Linked DNA regions of Homo sapiens: region 1 is linked to region 2. The links come from fine-mapping of genetic effects on gene expression. A gene starts in region 2. The other region holds a variant in brackets. All regions are shown on one strand. Distances are from middle to middle.

Region 1 (8,000 bases), 24 kb after region 2:
CTAAGGTATTTTGTTTGTTTTATTCACTTTTCTTTCTTTCTTTCTTTCTTTTTTTTTTTTTTTTTGAGACTGAGTCTCACTCTGTCGCTCGGGCTGGAGTGCAGTGGCACGATCTCAGCTCACTGCAGTCTCCACCTCCTGAGTTCAAGCAATTCTCTTGCCTCAGCCTCCCGAGTAGCTGGGACTACAGGCACATGCCACCACGCCCAGCTAATTTTTTGTATTTTAGTAGCGACGGGGTTTCACTATGTTGCCCAGGCTGGTCTCAAACTCCTGAGCTCAGGCAATCTGCCCACCTCAGCCTCCCAAAGTGCTAGGATTACAGGCATGAGCCACCACGCCCGGCCACTTTTGTTTCTTTTTAGATTTAATGTTGGAGTGGTTTCTGTGTTACTTTCTGTGTTTCTTTGTGGCCTGTGAGTTTTAGCCCCTTTTGTCTTCAGTTATCCCTCTTACACTCAACCTTGAGAAATGATATTATCCTATTATTTTGGATACTTTTGGCAGTTACACTCTCAAGTCTGTGACTTCTGGAACCATGCAGATCTTTATTGTAAGACAGAAATCCCATTATCTGATTTACCTGCCCATTTTCAGAGGTCCCCAAAGAACCCCTAGGTTGGTGAGGTTTCTTTGAGAAAATGGCTTTATGTGTGTGCAAAAAAAAAAAAAAAAAAAAATCGTTTTTAATGTCGGTAAATTCCTGTTGGAAACAAATGCTAACTAGTTACGTAACAGGGCTGCCAGAGAGCAGGCTGAGGCTCCCTGGGATTTTCAGTGGCCCCTTTTCATTTCTTTCAACAACTATCAATTGAATACTTGCTATGTGCCGGGCCTGGGCCAGGCATGAAAGAGGAGGGCGAACGGGAGCTGTGAGCCTGGCGCATGCGGGGCCTTCCTTTGTGGATCTGTCTACAGCCATGACTCATGCTGGGAGGACCAGCAAGTTTAGAGTCCCCACTGTGGGACTTGCAACATCAGACGCAGTGGGCTCTTCTGCTCTTTCCTGCAGCTCCCATAGAAAAGTGCCATCCTTCCTTTTCAACTTTGCAAAGCAAAAGGGAAGTAGAATTGTGCCTTTTTTTGTACTGTTTTGTCAGTGAAGCCTTTATTCCTTTATTCCTTCAGGATCCACAAAGGATTTAAGGTGACCCCAAGACAGTACGTATTTGTTTCCCAGTGATTACTGAAACAAAATCTATGGGTGTCTCTCGGTTGGGAGGCTTGCTCAGTGCCATCCTGCCATAAATACAAGCTTAATTTGGAAAAATCCAATTGGGCTGGAGAGGAGGTGCTGTGTTGGCTTGGTTTCCAGAGGCTGTGAAATGACTCCTGATCCCTCACATCCGTTGCACTAGTAACTTTCATCTTGCCCCCGTATAGTAATGACTTGAAAGGAGATATTGGTGGGTTATTTGTTTGAGTCCCTTCCATAGACGCAACAAAAGAGATAAAGTGAAGTGGGTTTTCTCCATTCAAATGTCTGTTTTTTGGAGTTGTGTGGTTTTCTATACCACATAAAACTACAGGTAGGATTGGAAGGCTGTACTTGAAAGTCTCAATGTGTTTTTTTTTTGCGGGGGTGGGGCGGGGAGACAGAGTCTTGCTCTGTCACCACACTGGAGTGCTGTGGCACAGTCTCAGCTCACTGCAACTTCTGCCTCCTGGGTTCAAGTGCTTCTTGTGCCACTCAGCCTCCCAAGTAGATGGGACTACAGGTGTGCACCACTGCGTCCGGCCTCAATTTTTTTTTTTTTTTTTGACTGAATCCTTTAGCCACTATCAGGGAACTGTCCTCCTCGTCAGAAGGGGGAAACAGAATTCCTTCAATAGAGCATAGGAACTAAGCTCAGGTAGGCCTGAGATGGTCTCCCAGCCCAGCCACTTACAAGCCATTTGACCTTGGGCACGTCATGTAACATCGCTGAGTCCGTTTCATCATTTGTAAAATGGGATTCAAAGCAGTTACATTATTGACAAGATTAAGTGAGATAATGTGGGCGAAGCCCCTGCCTTTAATAGGGGCTCAGTAAATGATAGATTCTTAATAAATGTATCTAGGGTATCTTGGTTCCTGTGTAACTTCTTTTCTTTCATCTGTTGCCCAGAAGAACTACTGAGGTACATAGGAGATGCTCAGTAAATTTTTGTTAAATGATTTTTGTTAAATGAATGGCAGAGCTTCAGTACTTTCTTTGTCCTATTGTCTTTTTTTTTTCTGAGACAGAGTCTTGCTCTGTCTCCCAGGCTGGAGTGCAGTGGTGTGGTCTCAGCTTACTGCAGCCTCAGTCTCTTGGGTTCCAGTGATTCTCCTGCCTCACCCTCCCAAGTAACTGAGATTACAGGCACACACTACCACGCCTGGCTAATTTTTTGTATTTTTAGTAGAGATGGTTTTTACCATGTTGGCCAGGCTGGTTTCAAACTCCTGACCTCAGGTGATCCACCCGCCTCAGCCTCCCAAAGTGCTGGGATTACAGGCATGAGCTGTGGTGCCCAGCCCCTATTGTCTACAATAGTACTTCACGCTGTGAGCTTTGCGCTAGGAGATGTCCTGAGAGAGCCTTTAAGAAAACTGGCCAGGTAGATTTGGGAACTGCTGTAGAGTACAGATTCTAGCCCTTTCCAGAGATGAATCAGGCATGTTACTATTTTAGCAGCTTAGAAAAGTTGTGGGGAGAAGAAGTCTCCCTAGCCTTTTAAGCTTGGTATTTTCTAATCTTATTTGACTGTATAGGGTAATATCGTGCCTTGATGATGCTGTGATGAGGCTCCTAATGAGTTAATGTGTGCCAAGCATTTAGGACAGTGCTGAGCAAAGTGGGTCCCACAAAGGGGCTGCTGTAAGCCCATCCATCCTTGTGCAGATATTTTTGTGGGAAAGATTTCTAGAAGAGGCACATTCAAAAATTTGATGGGATCAGGTGTGGTGGCTCACACCTGTAATCCCAGCACTTTGGGAGGCCGAGGCAGGAGGATTGGCTGAGCCCAGGAGTTTGAGACCAGCCTGGGCAACATGGTGAGATCCCATCTCTGAAGAAAAAAAAAAAAAAAAGGTTGATAGATTCCTCAGAATTACTTTTCAAAATCTAATCTGCCATGATCTAAAGTTTGTTTCTCCAGGAAATAGATAAGCAGCTGTTTTCCTGTACCACATGTGTTCTGGATCCTTCTCCTCCCTCTGCACCATAACTGAAGATGGGATGGAGCATAACTGAAAGTCACCCCTCTCTTCTCTCTCTTGCAGAAGCCTGGCTACAGATAAGGGACCAAAATGACTGACTCAAAATATTTCACCACGACCAAGAAAGGTATTACTTGTTTAATAATGGGCCTTGTCCTATGCTTTCTCTTCCTGTCCCTTCTGTTTTCCTCCTATGGCGGTAGGGAGTAGGGGTGGGAATGAAGGCCTGGAAACATGTGGCAGGAATGGCCTAGAGCTTGTGGTAGATCTAGAAAATTGAACTGTTGATGATATAAGAAATTGACCACTCCTTTTAGAGCTCAGAAAGGGAAGAACATTAGCTCCAAGTGTGGGGAAAAAAAGTGCCCTTTTATTTCCCATGGCTTAAAATAATTATGTTTTTTTCCAGGGGAAAGAAAACACAGAATCCTATCAACACCCCCACAGCAGTTGTGTGTGTGTGTGTGTGTGTGTGTGTGTGTGTGTGTGTGTGTGTGTGTCCTTATCCAAGGGCACGTGTTTTTCTTTTTTTTTGAGACGGAGTTTCACTCATGTCACCCAGGCTGGAGTGCAGTGGTGCGATCTTGGCTCATTGCAACCTCCGCCTC[T/C]CGAGTTGAAGTTATTCTCCTGCCTCAGCCTCCGGAATTGCTGGGATTACATGCGCCCGCCGCTATGCCCAGCTAATTTTTCTTTCTTGTTTTTTTGAGACGGAGTTTCGCTCTTGTTGCCCAGGCTGGAGTGCAATGGCGCTGATCTCAGCTCACCACAACCTCCGCTTTCCAGGTTTAAGTGATACTCCTGCCTCAGCCTCCCAAGTAGCTGGGATTACACCACCATGCCCGGCTAATTTTGTATTTTTGGTAGAGACGGGGTTTCTCCATGTTGGTCAGGCTGGTCTGAAACTCCTGACCTCAGGTGATCCGCCCCCTCAGCCTCCCAAAGTGCTGGGATTACAGGCGTGAGCCACCGCGGCCGGTCAGGCATGTATTTTCATCGTTTTAATCCTGTTTTTCATTTGATGTTTTGATATCATAAACATTTCCCAACAATTCTAATGACTCACTATTAAGTCTATTGAGTAGCTACACTGAAATTTGCTAAGCTAGGCTTATATCATTGGGTATTTTGGTTGTTTCTGCTTTTAAGGAAATGGAGGATGTCGTCGTGGCTGACAAATGTGCTTTAACCCTGTAAGCATCTTTCTGGCCAGCCCTTTATTCCTCCCTCCTTCCTTCCAAGTGATACTGACACATGCCTGCCGACCAGATGAAAAGAGTCTGTTGCTGGATCAGCTGATCCAGGACCCGAAGTCTGCCCCTCATCAGGCATTTCATGTATTGGTCTAGCTGGTTTTTACTGAGAACCTACCATGTGCAGTGGAAAAGAAACAGAGCCTCTGACCTGGTGTTGCTCAAGGTTGAGCAGGGAAGACAGTCTGTAGAGTAGTAACCACACTGAAGTGTACTGGGTCCAGGGGGGACTGTGGGAGAGCTCTGGGTGGAGCTGGCCAGATCGATGGGGGATAGGAAGGGGAAGGAGTGAGTGCTGTGCCTGTGACACATTTGGGGAAAGGAAGGTAGTGGGCATGAGCTACCGAGGAGGGTGATACAAGAAGAGGTTAGAGCCAGGCACAGTGGCGCCCCAGGTGGTGGCTTGGGTGGGAGGATTACTTGCTTGAGCCCAGGAGTTCGAGTCTAGCCTGGGCAACTAATTGAAAAAAGAGAGAAAGCAATTGGAGAGGTACGCAGGGATCAGTCTTGTGGAGCCTGGTGAGCCACAGGGTGAACGTAGTGCTGAGTGTATTGGAGTCCCAGGGGTGGGTTTTGTTGTTTGTTTGTTTTTTTTTGAGACAGAGTCTCTGTCACCCAGGCTGGAGTGCAATGGGAAGATCTCTGCTCACTGCAGCCTCCTGGGTTCAAGCAATTCTCCCAAGTAGCTGGGACTACAGGCACGTGCCACCATGCCCAGCTATTTTTTTTATTTTGGGGTTGGGGTTTTTTAGTGGATTTCTTTTGGGAAGAGAGATGTGTGGACAGACATGCCTGGGTTCAATGCTCCAGCCAAAGAGACAAGGAAACAGGTTTAGGAAAGCAAAGTGGGTATCTTGGGTAGGCCCAAGCATAGGGATTGAGAGCATGGGCTTTGGAGCTAGCAGACCTGGTTTTCAGTTTCAGCCCTGCCCCCTACCAGCATTGGCTATACGTTACTGAGCCTCTCACAGCCTCCATTTGCAAAACGGAGGGAAATGCAGAGTTGTGAGGATGAAATAAGAAAATGTGTGGGAACAAGTTAGTATGGGACTAGGCTTAGAGAAGGGCTTAGAGGGGCCGGGCATGGTGGCTCAGGCCTGTAGTCTCAACACTTTGGGAGGCTGAGGCGGGTGGATCACCTGAGGTCAGGAGTTTGAGACCAGCCGGGCCAACATGGTGAAACCCCGTCTCTACTAAAAATACAAAAATTAGGAGGGTTTGATGGTGTCCGCCTATAGTTCCAGCTATTTGGGAGGCTGAGGCAGCAGAATTGCTTGAACCCGGGAGGCGGAAGTTGCGGTGAGCCGAGATCGCACCGCTGCACTCCAGCCTGGGTGACAGAGTGAGACTATGTCTCAAAAAAAAAAAATGGCCGGGCGTGGTGGCTCATGCCTGTAATCCCAGTGCTTTGGGAGACCAAGGCGGGCGGATCACGAGATCAGTTCAAGACCAGCCTGACCAACATGGTGAAACCCCGTCTGTACTAAAAATACAAAAATTAGCTGGGTGTGATGGCGCACGCCTGTAGTCCCAGCTACCCGGTATGCTGAGGCAGGAGAATTGCTGGAACCCAGGAGGCAGAAGTTGCAGTGAGCTGAGATGGGGCCACTGCACTCCAGCATGGGTGACAGAGCAAGACTCTGTCTCAAAAAAATAAAAAATAAAAGAGAAGGGGTCAGGAAATGACATCTGCCCTCCTAACCTGTTATCAGGGTCCTGACTATCTGTCCATGGCAGGGCCAGACAACCCTGCTTCCTCATTTGTTTTTTTCATGTCATGAAGTTCTTCAGAACAATTGATTTCATGCTTGAGCTCTCATGGAGCAGCTGAATTCCTGTTTTCAGAGCTGAGCAACCAACCACTTGTGTCTCAGGAAGTGAAACCCTGAACAAGCTGTTTTAATTAGAGGTTTGAGGAAAACAGGAAAGGCCTTCATGTGGGAATCCACAAATCCTGCTCTCACCCCGCAAGCCTTAAGTACTCAGGTTCTATTGCACTGAGCCTTTTAAGGGTCTTTTGTTGAGTGAGGGTAGCTGAGGACAGCTTTGCCTTCCACTGGGGTTTTAGCTCCCTGGCTGAGCAGAGCCTGCCATCATGTTTTTGATGCTTTTGTCTTCCTCAGAACCTTTGTAGCTTCCATGGTTCCTGTTGCTTCAATCCAGAGTGGCCTCTAAACTTTTTTTTTTTGGAGACAGGATCTCACTTTGTGTCCCCCAGGCTGGAGTGTAGTGGTGTCATGGCTCACGGCAACCTCGATCTCTGGGCTCAAACGATTCTTCAGCCTCAGCCTCCAGAGTAGCTGGCACGGCAGGCACATGCCACCACACCCGGCTAATTAAAAAAAATTATTTTGTAGAAACGAGGTCTCACTATGTTACCCAGGCTGATCTCAAACTCCTGAGCTCAAGTAATCCTCAGCCTCTTTTTTTTTTTTTGAGATGGAGTCTTGGCCCTGTCGCCAGGCTGGAGTGCAGTGGCGCCATCTTGCCTCACTGCAACCTCCACCTCCCGGATTCAAGCAATTCCCCTGCCTCAGCCTCCCGAGTAGCTGGGATTACAGGCACGCGCCACTATGCCCGGCTAATTTTTTGTATTTTAATAGAGACAAGGTTTCACTATGTTGGCCAGGATGGTCTTGATCTTCTGACCTCGTGATCCGCCTGCCTCGGACTCCCAAAGTGCTGGGATTACAGGCATGAGCCACTGTGCTGGCCAATCCTCAGCATTTTAAAGTGCTGGGATTACAGGTATGAGCGACTGCACCCGGCCTACAAGTTTCCATCTTGTTAATTCCTGTCCTAACAGTCATCCCTCACTGTTGCCTGGCCCACCTGAGGCCAGGCGCCTGAAGCTTCCCTCAGCCAACAGCATAGGATGTCTTACGTGCCTCCCTCCGGTTCTTTTGGAAGTTAGATACTGGGAATTGTCCCCTGCCAGGGTAGGGAGGGATCACTCATGCTTGCCTCCTTTCCTTAGGGGAGATCTTCGAGCTGAAGGCAGAGCTCAACAGTGACAAGAAGGAGAAGAAGAAGGAGGCAGTGAAGAAAGTGATTGCATCGATGACCGTGGGCAAAGATGTCAGGTGTGCAGGAGTAGGCCTGGTGGCAGCTAGAAGCTGGCTGACAGGGGAGGGTTTATAGCTTGGGTCCACTTCAGTCTCTCCTTTAGGGTGTCTAGGGACCCATGTCTCCCCTCATACAGCTCCCTTCATAAAACTTTCTTCCCAATAGAAGGTTTTGTTTACACAGGAATCATGAGCCCAGACACTGACAGGTCAGGTGGTTATGGAGTGAGTTAACTGGAGTAGGTGGGAAAGGCAGCAGGCAATGGAGTGGGTGTGGCATGAACCCTCTCAGAAACTCCAGAGGATCAGTACTGGCTGGGGAAGAGGACCCAGTGTGGCCAGGTCTTCTGGTTTTTAAAAGAATGGGAAATCTGGGCCAGGCGCGGTGGCTCACGCCTGTAATCCTAGCACTTGGGGAGGCCCAGGCGGGCGGATCTCGAGGTCAGGAGTTCGACACCAGCCTGGCCAATATGGTGATATCCTGTCTCTACTAAAAATACA
Region 2 (11,314 bases):
TTCTCTTCCTTCTCTTCTCTTCTTTCTCTTCTCTTCTCTTCTCTTTTCTTTCTCTTCTCTTCTCTTTTCTCTTATTTCTCTTCTCTTCTCTTTTCGACAGAGTCTCGCTCTGTTGCCCAGGCTGGAGTGGACGGGCATGATCTCAGCTCACTGCAACCTCTGCCACCCAGGTTCAAGTAATCCTCCTGCCTCAGCCCCCCTAGTAGTTGGGATTACAGGCACTCACCACCATCCCCAGCTAATTTTTGTGTTTTTAGTAGAGACAGGGTTTCACCATATTGGCCAGGCTGGTCTGGAACTCCTGACCTCAGGTGATCCACCTGCCTAAGCCTCCCAAAGTGCTGGGATTACAGGTGTGAGCCACTGTGCCCATCTGAGAGCCTGGGCTTTTTCGATGCATCGGCGGAGGGTAGTTCAGCACAGGGGTACCTGAGAGAGCAGAGCTCTTCAAGAGGGAGCCTGTGGTGTACAGCTAGGAGGGGCTGAGCAGGAATTTGCTACTGGGAAGACTAGAAATGGTGCACTGAGGACATCTGCAGCAAGGAGAGCTGGAGGCAAAGGCTGGGATCCCTGGCAAGCTCTAGGCCTCTCTGCCCTGGGGGTTGTGCCAGGCCTGGGCTGGGCGGGAGGGATGGGAAGCTGCCTGCCCTCAGCAAGCAGGTGGAGGCTGGTGTTCCTGAGGCTATGGACAAAGCCACCTCCTGCCTCCTTTTAGAAAGGCTCTGTGGCAACTTTTAGAGATTTGCAGGATGAAAACAACAAAAACCAGCAAGCAAACAGAGACTGGAGTAGAGGAATAGTAATCACAGAGGAACAAGAGTGCGGAAAGGCTGGGAATGTATATAGAAAGGCACAGCGGCCCCTGTGAAAGGATGGCAATTGAAGGGAACGGTGGCGGTTAGTGGCACCTGTGCGCACTCTAGTGGGCGCAGAGGGGAAGAATACTTAATTTGTTCATGTACTTATGCACCCATTCATTGTGGAGGGAGGATGGGAAGGACTTTGCTCTGAGATTCTGAGTATCAGAAAGGGGAAGGGACTTGCTGAGGGTCACAGAATGCCAGTGGCAGGGGTCACAGTGGGTCATTTCACGAGACCGCACGAACTCTCAACCTTCCTGGCATTGGATGAAACCTCATGAAGCAGGTAAGGGTGAGTGGAGAAGAAAGCATGAGGCCTGCCGTCATCAGCCCTGGCCTTGACTCTCCGCTAGGCCCATTGCTGCTTTGGGAAGCTGGGAAAGTCCCTCAACATTTCAGGACTTCAGTGGCCTCATCTGTAAAATGGGGTTATCTTAGCATCTACCTATTGAGAACGGTGAGAGTTAAATGAATTGATGGATGTCAAGGGCATACAACGATGCTTGGCCCATGGTGGGTGCACAGTTCGCAGAGAAGAGAAACTGAGGCCCAAAGAACTGGCCAGGCCCGGTGCAGTGGCTCACGCCTGTAATCCCAGCACTTTGGGAGGCCAAGGCGGGCAGATCACCTGAGGTCAGGGGTTCGAGACCAGCCTAGCCAACATGGTGAAACCCTTTCTCTACTAAAATACAAAAATTAGCCAGGCATGGTGGTGGGTGCCTGTAATCCCAGCTACTCGGGAGGCTGAGGCAGGAGAATGGCTTGACCCCAGGAGGTGGAGGTTGCAGTGAGCCAAGACCGCACCACCGCACTCCAGCCTGGACGACACAGCGAGACTCCGTCTCAAAACAAAACAAAACAAAACAAAAACAACAACAAACAAAATTAGCCAGGAGTGGTGGCACAGGCCTGTAATCCCAGCTACTCGGGAGGCTGAGGCAAGAGAATCACTTGAACCCAGGAGGCGGAGCTTGCAGCAACAAAAGCGAAACTCTGTCTCAAAAACAAAGAACTGGACAGCCCTGTCTCCACCAGCCAGCTCAAATCGGGCAGGGTATAAAAACACTGGGGCTTGGAGAAAAGTTTTAAAATGTCCTGGCTGGGCACAGGGGCACATACCTGTAATCCCAGAACTTTGGAGGCCAAAGCAGGAGGATCACTTGAGGCCAGGAGTTTGAGACCAGCCTGGGCAACATAGTGAGACCTCATCTCTAAAACAAATAAAAATAGGCCGGGCGTGGTGGCTCATGCCTGTAATCCCAGCACTTTGGGAGGCCAAGGCGGGCAGATCATTTAAGGTCAGGAGTTCCGAGACTAGCCTGGCCAACATGGTGAAACCCCATCTCTACTAAAAATACAAAAATTAGTTGGGTGTGGTAGGCAGATTGGGCAAAAAGAGTGAGACTCTGTCTCAAAATAAATAAATAAATAAAAATAAAAACTAGCCAGGAGGTAGTATTATTGTCAGGAAGTATGTATTTCTTGGGAGGAAGCCAGCGCCCTCTCTCTCTCTCTCTCTCTATCCAGGTGGGCTTGGCTACCATTGGCTCTGCTCCCCACATCCTAGGGCAAGGAGTTTCTCCTGGGCCTGGGGTCTCAGAGGGCCGGGGCACCCACATGTGCCCCAGGTGTGGCAGTTCCAGTTGTAGCTGTCAGCATTTGATGGTGTGGATGACTCAGGCAGTGTAGCTAGGTGGGTTTAGTGGTGGGGGCAGAGAGGGAAGTTCCCTTAGATGCTCCCTTCCCCACTTCTGTCACCCACCTCTGCAAGCTGTAATTATCCAGCCTTTTACTTTGAACTGTACTTCCTCTTACTAGTATATTTTTAGCTCTCCTGCCAGATCATGCTGTGGGAGAGCAGGTCCAGGCCCTCATGGAAGTAGGGAAGAAATCAGTTCTACCCACTGGTCTTTTCCTTATCTCTACTTGGGGACAGTCATGGAACTGTCATGGAATTATTGGGAAAGTTTAATGAGTTAATATGCAGAGGCGCTTCACACAGTGCCTGGTTAATGGTTAACTATTAGTAGTAGTCTCACCCTTCACAGTTCAGGTTGGGTGTCACTTCCTCCAGGAAGACTTCCCTGACTTTCCCAGGCTGAATTTGGTGCCTGCATCCCCTGTGCCTCCCTGGTACTTCCTACCACTCTGAGTTATAATTGTCCCTTTGTTTATCTTTCTCCCATACTCAACAGTGAGCCCCCAAGGGGGGATTGTGCCATACCCTGTTCACTGTTGCATCCCCAGTGTTCCTGGCTCAGATGGCAGTGATGATTATATTTTAGGAGAATGAATGAAACTCATGACAGCTGGGGCTCTGGGACCAGGCCCTCAGCCTTGTCACTCACATGCTATTTAAGTTCTCAGGGTTGAAGTTCCCCCCAAGATGAAATGGAGCTAAAACAACCCCTTCCTCATGGGGCCGATGTCAGGAGCAAATGAGATTTTCTGCACACTACCTGCCACGCTACATGTTCCATAAACATTCACTGTTGTTCTGCAGTTCCTGATTAAATACACTCTACTTGGCCGTGTGTGTTGGCTCATGCCTGTAATCCCAGCACTTTGGAGGTGGATCCCTTGAGGTCAGGAGTTTGAGACCAGCCTGGCCAACATGGCAAAACCCCATCTCTACTACAAATACAAAAATTAACCAGGCATGGTGGTGTGCAAATGCAGTCCCAGCTACTTGGGAGGCTGAGGCAGGAGGATTGCTTGACCCTGGGAGGCAGAAGTTGCAGTGAACCAAATTTGCACAGCTGCACTCCAGCCTGAGTGACGGAGACTCTGTCTTAAAAAAAAAAAAAAAAAAAAAAAAAAAAAAAAAGCCAGGTGTGGTAGCTCATGCCTATAATCCCAGCACTGTGGGAGGCCAAGGCGGGCGGATCACCTGAAGTCAGGAGTTCAAGACTAGCCTGGTCAACAGGTTGGAACCCCATCTCCACTACAAATACAAAAATTAGCTGGGTTTGGTGGTGGGCGCCTGTAATCCCAGCGACTCGAGAGGCTGAGGCAGGAGAATTGCTTGAGCCCGGGAGGCAGAGGTTGTAGTGAGCCGAGATTGCTGCCACTCCACTCCAGCCTGGGGGACAGAGCAAGACCCCGGCTCACCAAAAACAAAACAACAACAACAACAAAAACCTTCTACTTGTCCAGGCATCCCTGGTCCCTCCAACCCAAAGGAACTTCAGTTTTAGCTCTGGACTCCCATAGCCTCCCAGTATGTCCCCTCTCACAGCATCAGTCACACTTGTGACTTGCTCCTCTGTCACCCCCTCTCCCTGCAAACTGTAGGCTGAGCAAGGGCAGGGCCTTAGCCTCACCCATCTGACTATCCAGCACCCAGCCCAGGGCCTGGCTGAAACCAGAGGCTTGGAAAATGCTTTCTGCAGGACTCAGACACCTGGCTCCCTTGCACTGGGCGTGGGGGTGGGCCCGTGAGGTTTTCCTGCCTCGGCACAGTTCTTTTCTCTGGATTACCCTTTCCTTCTCTCTCAGCCTACGCAACTCTGTTCTCATTCGGCAAGACAGCGCAAATGCCATCTTCCCCAGGAAGTCCTTCCTGAGCCGCCCGGTGCTGTGACCTCTCCCTCCTTGGAAATCTTAAAGCTCTGACTCCTTCAACCACTGACTTGCCACTTGCACATAAGCTCTCCAGCTTGATACCTTTAGGTTTGTTGGTTTGTTTTGTAGGATAATTTTTCTCTTCTGATGTTACATTCCCAATGAAATTTTGTTTTCCACTGAGGCGGGTGGCATTTACCAACATCTATCATCAGAGAAGGGCAGTTCCTCCAGAAAGTTGCATATCACACATGCTGCATGGCACATACATACACATAAAATTATTCCAGGCACACAGAGGAAAGATCGTGTGAGGACATAGCAAGAGGGCGGCCATCTACAAGCCAAGGAGAGAGGCCTCAGAGGAAAGCAGCCATGCCAACACCTTGATCTTAGACTTCCAGTCCCCAGCACTGTGAGAAAATAAATTCCATTGTTGAAGCCAAAAGAAAAAAAAATTCCATTTGTTCCCTGACTACTTTTTTATTTTTATTTTTTTTGAGACAGAGTCTCACTCCGTCGCCCAGGCTGGAGTGCAGTGGTGCAATCTTGGCTCACTGCAAGCTCCACCTCCCGGGTTCACGCCATTCTCCTGCCTCAGCCTCCTGAGTAGCTGGGACTACAGGCACCCACCACCATGTCCGGCTAATTTTTTGTATTTTTTAGTAGAGACGGGGTTTCACTGTGTTAGCCAGGATGGCCTCCCTGACTACTTTTAAAAAGGATTTAAAAATGGAATAAGGTGGCCGGGCACGGTGGCTCACACCTGTAATCCCAGCACTTTGGGAGGCTGAGGCGGGCGGATCACAAGGTCAGGAGAGCCAGACCATCCTGGCTAACAACGGTGAAACCCCGTCTCTACTAAAAATACAAAAAAAATTAGCCGGGCGTGGTGGCGGGCGCCTGTAGTCCCAGCTACTCGGGAAGCTGAGGCAGGAGAATGACGTGAACCCGGGAGGCGGAGCTTGCAGTGAGCCGAGATCGAGCCACTGAACTCCAGCCTGGGTGATGGAGCGAGGCTCCGTCTAAAATAAATAAATAAATAAATAAATAAATAAAAATGGAATAAGGTTTGTAATTTAGATAACGGTATTTTACCAACACCACCAATTTCCTGCTTTTGCTATTATACTGCAGATATATAAAATGTCACCATTGTGGGAAGCTGGGTGAAGGGTATATGGGACTCAATTTTGGTACTAATTTTGCAATTTCCTGTAAGTCTATAATTATTTAAAAATAACTTTTAAAGGCTTTGAGGCTGCTTAAACATCTAAAATTATATTAAATATAAAAACCAGTAATATCTATATTAGATAGGACGTAGAGACTTAGCAATAAGTGCACTTAGCAGTAAGTGCAAGCTTATTTATTAACAACTTTTTGATAATATTAAAAAAGATGGATAACAACCTCAGGGGATTGTTTTTGAGATTAGCAGTACCATCCACGTAATGGAATACTATGCAGATACTGGAAAGTGCCAAGTAGAAATGTATTTACTATTTTGGGAAACTTTTACCAATATTTTGGTGAGTTAAAAAATACCAACAGTGGCTCACGCCTATAATCCCATCACTTTGGGAAGCTGAGGTGGGCAGATCACTTGAGGTCAGGAGTTCAAGACCAGCCTGGTCAACATGGTGAAACCCCCGCCTCTACTAAAAATACAAAAATTAGCTGGGCACGGTGGTGCATGCTTGTAATCCCAATTACTTGGGAGGCCCAGGCAGGAGAATCGCTTGAACCTGGGAGGCAGAGGTTGCAGTGAGCCAAAATCACGACACTGCACTCCAGTCCGGGCAACAGAGCGAGACCCTGTCTCAAAACAAACAAACAAAAAAAAACAAATGATCTATCAAGTTTGGAAGAATATTCACCAAAATATTAAAAGTGATTGTCTTAGGTCAGTGGGATTGCAGATGGTTTTTTTCTTTTTTCTTTTTTTTTTTTTTTGAGACGGAGTCTTGCTCTGTCGCCCAGGCTGGAGTGCAGTGGTGTGATGTCGGCTCACTGCAAGCTCTGCCTCCCGGGTTCACGCCATTCTCCTGCCTCAGCCTCCTGAGTAGCTGGGACTACAGGCGCCTGCCACCACACCCGGCTAATATTTTGTGTTTTTAGTAGAGACGGGGTTTCACCATGTTAACCAGGATGGTCTCGATCTCCTGGCCTTGTGATCCGCCCGCCTCGGCCTCCCAAAGTGCTGGGATTACAGGTGTGAGCCACCATGCCCGGCCATTTTTTTTCTTTTTTTGAGACAGGGTCTGGATCTGTCGCCCAGGCTGGAGTGCAGTGCTGCAATTATAGCTCACTGTAACCTCAACCTCCTGGGCTCAAGCTATTCTCCTGCCTCAGGCTCCCGAGTAGCTGGGACTACAGGTATGAGCCACTGTGTCTGGCTCAAGGTCACTCATCTTAAGAATGGAGGGGTCCAAACTAGAGCTGTAAACCTAGTTTGGACAGAGAGAGACCCCTCTGTAATCCCAGCACTTTGGGAAGCCGAGGCGGGAGGATCTCTCGGGTCCATGATTTCGAGACCAGCCTGAGCAATAAAGTGAGACTCTCTCTACAAAAAATAAATAAGTAAATAATAAGTAATTAGCCGGGCGTAGTGCTGCGCACCTGTGGTCCCAGCTGCTTGGGAGGCTGAGGTGAGAGGATCACCTGAGCCTGGGAGGCGGAGGGTGCAGTGAGCCCAGATCTTCGAGCCACTGCACTCTAGCTTGAGCAACAGAGCAAGACCCTATTTCAAACAAACAAACAAAAAATGAGTGACCTTGAGCAAAACCCTGCCCCTCTTAGAACCTCAGATTTGCCGTCTTTACACAGAAGATGGACTTCAAACTCCCTACGACCTTGCCCGGCCCCCTCACGCTGAATTGGCTAGCGGGATGGTTTCCCAAGGGCTCTGCGGGAGACTGCAGCATAGCAGCGCCGCGGCTGCCGAGGGGTTAATACCGTTGGGCTCTTCCCCTTTTCTTGCCCCGCCCCACGGGCACCACCCCCGCCAGGGTTGTACCCTTGACCCCGCCTTCAGGCCTTGCGTCCACCGGAAGTACCCGCGCGCGGGCAGCTCACTTCCGCCCGGCAGGTGACAGCCGCGGGGCTCCGAGCCGCCGGCAGCCCGGACGCACCGGGAGAGCGAGAGGTGGAGGCCGCGGACATTTTGGTGCCAAGCCGAACCGAGCCGGGGCGCCGGGAGCTATTGGGACCTGCGGGTGAGGAAGCGGGGACCCGGGCGAGCCAGGAGAAGAAGTGGGGCGAGGGGTCAGGGGTCCTAGGTGAGGGGTTTGCGGGGTCAGAGGTCATGAAGAGGACGCGGCGCTGCAGGGGCGCGAGCGACGTCCCCAGCCAGAGGAGGAGGAAGGGCTGAGGGTTCGTTCATTCATTCGCGCCCACTTGGCCGCCGGCCTGTTCCTCGGCCGCCCCATACCCGCAGCACCTCCTGGGGCTTCCGCCCGGAGAGACAGGACTTAGGCCCCGAGGAATTCCCCACTGGCCTGAGGGAAAACTCTTCGGGCTCTGATTTCCTCTTTCGGACTCACCTCCATGGCCATCCTGAGGCCTCCTCGTTGTTCAGGGCGTTATCTCTTTGCCAAGGTTGAAAAAGAAGAAAGAAAAAAAAACTAGAAAACGGTCCCGTGCCGCCCGCCTCCGGCTAGGCACTGGCTTGGTCTTGTTTGTTGGAGCCTCTAAGACAAGTTAACTGAATGGAGACACCGGTGATAATGCTGCAAAATAACGAGGGAGATGCTTGCTAGTGGCTATCGAGTCCCTTCTGTGTACCGGGCACTGTGCTAAGCACTTTCCTTACAATGACACATTTAAACTTCACAGCAACCTTTGTGGGGATTAAATATCCCTATTTTATCGATGAGGACCCTGAGGCACAGAGAGGTTAAATCCCACATGTAAGGTCATTCGGGTAGTAGAGGCAAGGCCAGGTTTTCTGCCAGGCTGTCAGAGACCTGCAAAGTACAGAGACAAAGGAAAGACTGGAGTTAAGGTTGGGGTGTAGGGGATATTTAAGACTTTTAGCCAGACATGGTGGCTCACGCCTGTAATCCCAGCACTTTGGGAAGCTGAGGCGGGTGGATCGTGAGGTCAGGAGTTCAAGACCAGCCTGACCAACATGGTGAAACCCTGTCTCCAATAAAAATACAAAAATTAGCCAGACATGGTGGCGTACGCCTGTAATCCCAGCTACTTGGGAGGCTGAGGCAGGAGAATCGCTTGAACCCAGGAGGTGGAGGTTGCAGTGAGCCGAGATCGTGCGACTGCACTCCAGCCTGGGCCACGGAGTGAGACTCCGTCTCAAAAAAAAAAAAAAAAAAAAGATTTTTAGCTGCCGTTGTATTTATTTGGATTTATGTCACGATGTAGCCTTATTGCTTTTTGTCTGATCTTCATAAGGGGCATTCGACTTACTTTCTTTAGGATAAAACAATCCTACAGGCTGTTGCTATTAGTGATACCTTTCAGGGCAAGAGTCTAAGATTTTCCTGACTTTAGGGAACAGTGAGACACAAAACAGGCTATCCGTGAAAACTATTTGAAGATTGTCGAGAACTTCTCTTCAGAGTGGTTGAGCTGCATTCGTTTTGGTCTAAAAAGAGAGGAACCACATGACCTCTAGGGGATCTTTTGGTCCTAGGTTCTGGAAGAAGGTACCCAGAGGAAGAATCTTTGCCTTTCTGAGAAATATGCAGGCCCCATGGCTTCTTGCCAGAGCAGAGCACGTCTTACTTGGGAGGTGGTGAGACGGTTTGGTGGCTGGAGGACTAGGCTGTATGAATCTAAGCCTCATTCCATTGCGGATATTCACTTGCTTCAATTCTGCCTCAGTTTCCCTGACATCAACATGAGAAAGACCTGCCGCCTTCCTGTCTGCTCCTAGGGGTATGAACCTGTGAATGAACCCGTGAGGGCTTCCACATGGCTTCTGAAGAAAGCTGTATATAAATATTACTGTAATACCTTTTTTTTTTAAGCTGTGTGATCTATTCTCCTAGTTCCATTGAATTCACAGAAACTTAATATTGTCACCTTATATTCCCATCCTTCCAAGGGAGGATTTGAGATGAAGCAACTTGTCACAGAGGGTAGGAACATGAGCAGAGCTCAGAGCTTCTGGTTTTCTGTCCTGAGTTGAGCCCACCAGTCTCCTCTGACCTCTTAGAAACTGTCATGAGGAGCATCTTCAGTAGGTCTCAAAGAGTCAGATCCCTCAGAGATTGTGTGAAGATCATCTGTTGAGTGTAGGTCAGTGGAGGCTTCACCCTGAGCTGCTTCAAGAGCCCAGAGGTATGATGGAAAGATCACCAGACTCCCAGTCAGTCAGCCCTGGGTTCAACCCCAGCTCAGCAGCTTCCTGGCAGTGTGACCTGACCTGGACCGTTGACATAGGCTGGCCCTCCTTTACCTCAGTTCTAAAATAATACTGGCCACCCTTTCTGACTCCTCTACCCCTGGTTTGTGTGAGGGTTAGATGGGAAAATTTGTGCAGGGCCTGTGATTTTTGGGTGCTTTGACTCTAGGCAGACTGATGCCTGCTGGGGGCCTGTGTCTGAGGAAGGCTGCCAACCTTGGCTTCTGGAGCGTTACTTCCTTCTGCAAACAGAGACCTTAATGTACGCAGGACTTTTTCCACCCTTCTTGTTTCACTTCCTAAAAGTAGTTCAGAACAAGTTCAATTTGTTGGTCCTTCTGGCTTTGAGCTTGGGCTTGCATCTTTTTCTAGTCATCCTCTGAAACTCTTGCATGTCTTAACTACTTCCCAGGAACTTCCCGTGTCTGGCACCAAAGCCTGACATGCTGACAGTAAGCAAACATGGCTTGGGTTTTGCACTTCGCTGTGTTTCTGAAGGTTGAGGTGACATCTGTGCCTTGCAGACATTTCTTTTTCTCAGCAGGTCTTTTTGCCTAAGAGACATCGTTGATATTATCACAGCCCAGAAGTGATTTTTCTGTTCTTTATGTCTTCACATGGAGAGGAACAAATACTCCTGAGAAAAAATGTCAACAGAGCAGTTGGGGAATCCTTAAAGAAAATTCTGCTTGAAAATTCATCAGTGGCTCCTAGTTGCCCTCGGGCTAAAACTCACATTCCTTAGCATGGCATTCAAGGCCCTTTGGACTCTGACCCCTGCCTAGCTCTCTTTTGTCATCTCTCCTGCTCCACACTCACCTTTTCCCAAGCTCCAGTCAACCTCAGCTACTTGCTACTTCTGCAAGCACCAACTCTTTTTCTTTTTTCGAGACAGGATCTTGGCTTGTTACCCAGACTGTAGTACAGTGGAGCTGTCATAGCTCACTGCAGGCTCCAACTCCTGGGCTTGAACGATCCTCCTGCCTCAGCCTCCCAAGTAGCTAGTACTACAGATGGGTGCCACTGTGCCTGGCAAATTGTTTTTATTTTTTGTAGAGATGGAGTCTTGCTATATTGCTCAGGCTGGTCTCAAACCCCTGGCCTCAAGCAGTCCTTCTGTCTGGGCCTCCCAAAGTGCTGGGATTACAGGCGTGAGCCACCACACCTGGCCTCCCAACTCTTTATACCTCTCTGTCTTTGCTTTGCACTCTTCCCTCTGCCTGAACACCATTTCCTGCTCTCCCAACCTTACCTGCCTAGCTGGAGTGCTACTTGGTTCTTCCCATCTGATCATCACCCCTAGGTCTGAGCTAGATGCCCCTCCTTGATGCCCTCTGGCAAGGGTCACAGTGGGTTGTGATTGTTTATTTGGCTCTCTTCTAAGTAAATAGCTCTTTTTTTTTTTCCAGACAGAGTCTCGCTTTTTCGCCCATGCTGGAGTGCAGTGGCGCGATCTTGGCTCACTGCAACCTCCGCCTCCCGGGTTCAAGCAATTCTCATGCCTTAGCCTCCAGAGTAGCTG

Evidence for each region. PIP is the estimated chance that this variant, and not a neighbour inherited with it, causes the effect.
Region 1: its variant is the best candidate, but not a certain one, in a credible set for the expression of AP1B1 in whole blood (INTERVAL, PIP 0.73).

Annotation. Positions count from the first base shown.
Region 1 is chr22:29,362,518-29,370,517 of GRCh38, reverse strand. It overlaps AP1B1 (adaptor related protein complex 1 subunit beta 1), which reads left to right. Exons shown (of 23, transcript NM_001127.4): 2 at 3,248-3,311; 3 at 7,412-7,517. The coding sequence starts at 3,275. Among named protein-coding and RNA genes, the nearest start is that of AP1B1, 22 kb to the left of the region's middle. The variant T/C (reference allele first, on the strand shown) is at 3,793.
Region 2 is chr22:29,384,752-29,396,065 of GRCh38, reverse strand. AP1B1 (adaptor related protein complex 1 subunit beta 1) reads left to right here and starts at 7,496. Exons shown (of 23, transcript NM_001127.4): 1 at 7,496-7,642. It also overlaps a transcript of RFPL1 not described here.